Linked DNA regions of Homo sapiens: region 2 is linked to region 1. The links come from fine-mapping of genetic effects on gene expression. A gene starts in region 1. The other region holds a variant in brackets. All regions are shown on one strand. Distances are from middle to middle. Region 1 holds the start of ICOS (inducible T cell costimulator). Region 2 overlaps ICOS (inducible T cell costimulator).

Region 1 (2,814 bases):
TGGGGCTGGAAGCCTTTCCTCATGATGCTACGGGGAGTACAGTGAAAAGGGAGGAGATTGGGGTAGCAAGGTCCCAGGGGTCCTGGCAGCCCAGGCTCTACTTCTCAGGCTAGCTCAGTCCCTCAAACAGCTTCCTTCACACCCACTGCTGAGACCCAGGAGCCCTACAGAAGGTAGCTAGGGGAAGCTTCAGCAGCTAGGGGGATCCCTGCAGGATCAGCCTCCTCCTTACCTTGCAGACCCCTTGGCTGTGGTCTGGCATTCCTAGTGGCTGGCCTAAAGCCCCAAACCTGGAATCTGTTTCAGAGCCTGGACCTTTTGGACTCACACCTTGGTTTCCCTGGCCAGCTGATTTCAGCTTCTCATCTAAATGTCATTTCTGCAGGCTAAGGGAAGTCCAGCCTGGATCTAGCATCTTGGAAGCGCGTTCAGACTTCTGGATGGAGGGATCAGCAGGCCTTGGTATTGGTGGTTCTACCTGCTTCGGTTAAGAGTGAGGACTCTGGAGCCAGACTCTCTAAATCATAGCACTGACACTTACTATATGACTTGGGCCAGGTTCGTTACCTGTCTGTGCCTCAGTTTTCCTCATCTGTAAAATGGGAGATTAGTGGTCACCATTGGGATGATTAAGAAGATTAAATGAGTTAATGTATGTATAAACTATAGTTATAATGTAAATATATATACAAACAGTAACCATTTACATGCATATAAAACATAATATAAATGTAATATTAGCTATATTCATATATAAAAATAGGTATATTTTATATATAAAATATATTACATTTAATTTTTTACATTTTGCATTAAGATATATTATTTCATATAAAACATTTAAGTACATATACATATAATTATCTATGTAATTATTATTGTTATTGTTGTTATTGTCTACTTTACCTCCCTGCAGGGATGGGGAGACCACGGCAGGCTTTTAAACATTCTTGGTCTCACTGAGCCGTAGGTGAGGAATCCCTGGTTCCTACAGACTCTGCTGTAATATGAGGAGCAGGGTTTAAGTTAGTTTAAAACTGACCCCATCATTTGAAACATTGCAATCTACAATGAATGCCACATAAATATCATTTCTCAGATTCCTATGATGCTCTTCTTTCAGATCTTTTCACTTCAATTTCTATAATAATTTTGTTTGTTTCTTGTCCTATTTCAAAGGCTTTCTTATCTCTGGAGCACCTAGCATAAGATAGAAATGTGTCAAAATATATGTTTTATTCATCATGTGAGTATTTTTAGGTCCTGTTAACCCCCATAACTATTGATTCAGAGAAGTAGGGTGGTTCTGAAAAATACAGGCATAATCTCTTTAACTTGTTTTATAGGAACCAGAATAAGGGTAATGTTTTCCTCTGTCTTCAAAATCATCAATAATCCATGCATTGTTTAACTCATGTCATAAGCAATAATGCCTTTCATATAGCCATTGGCATCAAAGAAGAAACACCCCCTTGATTTGATGGTAAGCGTGACACTACATAAACTCCCAGAAAACCCACTTCCTTTCCAGCAAATAGAAAACAACCGAGAGCCTGAATTCACTGTCAGCTTTGAACACTGAACGCGAGGACTGTTAACTGTTTCTGGCAAACATGAAGTCAGGCCTCTGGTATTTCTTTCTCTTCTGCTTGCGCATTAAAGTTTTAACAGGTAAGTGGTGTATTGAATATTTCTTATTAAGTTATAATTCAAGTAAACATTAAGAAAAAGCAAAGGTAGAAAAATTACGCACCCAAAAGACAGTGGTTTTGGTTTTTGAAAGTAGGAATAGTTTCAGGATATGGCCAAGGGCACCATGTCACTCATGTCACTGTGGATGGCATTGAGTTTGCATTGCTGCCTTTGATACTGTGTCTTGAGATGAAAAACATGTTTCATCAGACCATTAAATTTTTAAATTACCTGCTTGGAGTTACCTGTCAGTGGATAAACTAGCAGAGTGGCTTACTGTTCTTAGAGAAAGATGAAAGGCAAAATGACTTGTGTCAACAGAATGAAAATTAAATAGCTCTGGCATTTGGACTGGGAATTCTTTCTGTGGTAGAAAATAAAATGGGAAGTCTTTGAAAAGAAGGATTTTGATTTTAATCTTACCTGGATGATCTGTTATCTGAAATGTCCAGGGCACCATAGAGTTTTTATTGACACTAAGTATCAGAGTTCACCCTAAAAAGCCAAGGAGGAAAGGATAATGTAAAAATACTTCCTAGCCCCTGTAGACCTTACAAAAAAGATCATTCTGGAGTCCCTGATTCCTTCTCTTGAATGGCATATAGCAGACTCTATATGGACAATTTAAATAATGCTACATACAATGTAAGTTAATACACGTGTTTCTGCTGCTTTTTACTGTATATAATTTGTACTACTTTTGTTTTCTCTTTCACACTGAGCCCTATTCTTGAGGTTGAAAAAAGGAAAGTTAAGTAATATTAAATAACTTAAATAATCAAATAAACTAAAAGTGAAGGCAGAACTTTTAGTAGGTATGATCCTATCTAGGGATACATTTTTTCAGTGGCAAAAAAATAGACCTTACTGTTCTTACAAAAAATGAAAAAAAAATGAAATCAAATTGATCAAATGTTTCATCTTGTGCTGGCTCAAAGTGAGTTAAGTGCAGTTAAGAGGATTGAGGAATGTAGAATGAGCACAAGGACAGTTTTGGGCTACTTGCTGGTTTATGCCTTTTCTAGAATCTCATGAAGTCCTTTAGCGGCATGAATGACATGAGCAGCTTTGGAATTTATATTCATTCTTCATTCATCCATTTACTCATGTAGCATTGAGCAC
Region 2 (2,814 bases), 22 kb after region 1:
CTGCTTTACAGATGCACATCAGTGATTATTTCCTCATCAAAAGTACACATGGCTCTTGTCAGAGTAATTTGACCAACAGGGAGACAATTCCTTCCCCCCAAGACATACCTACTAATTAAACTAATCACTTGGAACAGAAATTTATGTATTTGTTTTATAGCCCACACATTCCAAAGAGGACTTGACTTGATGGCTTACAGAGAGTTACATTATTATTATTATTGTTCAAACTAGATGAGGAAATTGAGGTCAAGAGAAGACTAAAGGTCAGGAGGAAGGTTAAAACATCAAAATAGATGACTCTGATTTTTAAAAAATTATTATGCATGGGCTGCGAATTTGAATCCAAGGTTCCTGAGAGGCAGGGCAGAGATGAAACAATTAGTTATAAGTTTTGCTTAGCTGGTAAGTTAAAAACAGTCAGCAAGAAAGCCTTCTAAGGTGTCAATTGTAGCTGAGAAGGAAATTGACAACTTTTTTACATGGTAGGTTATTAGACTCCTTGCTTTTAAAGAAAACCACTGAGGAGCTATTTAGAAAGATAAACAACAATGACAACAACAAAAATCTCCCTGTGCTGGGGGATATTCTTTTTGGTCTCTTGCATTACAGGTTCTCAATCAAAGAACTGACACCACTCTGCATATTACGCGAGTATGCTAGTACTCAAGTATATCCACAGTGTGGTCATTGGCCAGTGTATATCTGTGGGAGAGTGGAATTTGGAAAGAGACATAAAGAAGGAAGAGAATGAGATAGCGCCCATGGTCTAAGTCTGCTGGGAAAGAAACAATAAAGGCAAAAACGAGGAAGAAAGTTCAGTAGAAAGCTCTTTTTATGTAAAGCCCTTTTCATATTGTTTTTCTACTTAGCCTAAAGCCAGGAACCTAAGTCACATTATCATGTTTTTGTCACATACCACTTCAACAAAGAATAGAAAACAGTCAAAAAACAAAGAGATGGAGAAGAAAAGATGACCAAGCATGTTTCTGGCTTTTTCTTTCAGAAGTATTCATCCAGTGTGCACGACCCTAACGGTGAATACATGTTCATGAGAGCAGTGAACACAGCCAAAAAATCTAGACTCACAGGTATGACTCCATTTGGGGGTTTGGGAAGGGAAGAGGTTTCTTCACAGTAAGCCTGGAATGTTAATTTTTTTTTTTTTAATTTTAAAGGAAAGGAAAACATCTCCAAGGCCTAATTCTAGAATTTTCTGTGAAAATCTGGATTTCTCACTTTTAACTAGATTTATATTTTCTGCAGTATATTGAAAACAAACAAGCAATAGGTTTGTAAGCCACTATTGAAACTAAACACACAAACAGCTCATAAACCACCATAGTATCAAGGCAATTTTCCCATTGATGTTTCAAAAGTTGGGATGATTCTAAGTGTTTTTTGTTGAAGGGTTCATTCAGTCATTCAATGAG[C/T]GTTTATTGAGCATCAGTTAAGTGTGAGTTACTGAGTGAGGCACTCTGGGGAATTTGGACAGATATATGCTAATTTTGGACTGAGATTAGGAAGAGAGATCTGTGCTGGTACTGCTAGAGGGAAGAAGGAGAAATTGATGAAGATATCTGGTTATTTTGAGGTAAAGAGTGTGCAAGTTTAGAGAACTTGGATGGCTTTAGAAGTCTCAGTAACATGGAAATTTGACCTTTTCTGTTAAGAGTCAGAAAACTGAAAGTTGCCAAGTTTGAGGAGCACCCAGAAAGTTTGAAGCTTCCATTGTGGAAAATTCATGTCTTATGCCCTTGAGGTTCGAATGATGTGCGATGTGTAATGAGACAGAAGCCACTGCATTTTTCCACCCCTCAGTGGCTACAGATTATCTAAAGGGGACACACATAGCTTGCGTTGTCATGGAATTATAGCATGGGATGGGAGCTAAAAAGGATCCTTGAGTTCACATTTCATGTTTTAGATGACAGAAATTGATGCTCAAAGTGTTCAGTGACTCTTTTGGTTCCCTAGACAGTTAATACCTAGCTTTGACACTTGCAAAGAGCTTATGTTTCATTACTTTGCTGTTTAAAAAATATATGATCTCTCAATCTCTTTGCTTAATGTGTTCTGGCTGTTTGGATCCCCACAAGCAGAACCTGACATAAGGACTTGGGTGCAAGTAGTTTATTTGGGAGGTGATCCCAGGAAGAAGGGGTGAGGGGGCAGGGAGAGTGAGACAGCCAACAAGGAGAAGCAAATGAAGGGCGCATTATTATCAAGGTCTCAGCTCCAGGCCACAGAGGCCTGACTTCATTGGACCTCTGAGAAGTGTACAGATGCCTCCCAGAATCATTCTCTTGAAGGATGGCAACCACTGGCTCCATCCTCACTGATTTGGGGTTGCCTGCGGAGGGCATTAGCTTTCCCTCATCTCTGAGCTGTGCCTCTACTTGGGATGAGCCTACTTGGGATGAGTCTTCAGAGAAAGTCTGGAGGCAGAAAAGCAGTGAAATGCAGTGGGGCTGTTGTGCTAGAACAGTCAGCCCATGCAGCGCTTTCTGCCCCAGCAGCAGCTGCAATCAGAGGTGGACAGTTTCAAAGTGATGAGTTTAGATAATGTCTGTTATAGGAGTCGAGAGCTAAACTTCTCTGGAAATGGGGAACTGGTGCTGGGTGTTGAAGCATAAAGATGAGTTTGCATGGTGTGTGTGTGAGTGTGTGTGTGTGTGTGTGTGTGCACGTGTGTGTTTGTGTGTATGAAAGGCAATGGAGAGGGGAAAGCTTCTTGTAGGGAACTGGCACATGGAGAGCATTTAGATAATTTATGCTGAATTTTTGTTACAGATGTGACCCTATAATATGGAA

The links. PIP is the estimated chance that this variant, and not a neighbour inherited with it, causes the effect.
Region 2: its variant is the best candidate, but not a certain one, in a credible set for the expression of ICOS in whole blood (INTERVAL, PIP 0.60).

Annotation. Positions count from the first base shown.
Region 1 is chr2:203,935,202-203,938,015 of GRCh38, forward strand. ICOS (inducible T cell costimulator) reads left to right here and starts at 1,562. Exons shown (of 5, transcript NM_012092.4): 1 at 1,562-1,671. The coding sequence starts at 1,614. It overlaps LOC101927840 (a long non-coding RNA gene), which reads right to left. Exons shown (of 4, transcript XR_427213.4): 2 at 2,116-2,187; 3 at 907-1,000.
Region 2 is chr2:203,956,793-203,959,606 of GRCh38, forward strand. It overlaps ICOS (inducible T cell costimulator), which reads left to right. Exons shown (of 5, transcript NM_012092.4): 4 at 1,007-1,091; 5 at 2,794-2,814. The coding sequence ends at 2,807. Among named protein-coding and RNA genes, the nearest start is that of ICOS, 21 kb to the left of the region's middle. The variant C/T (reference allele first, on the strand shown) is at 1,434.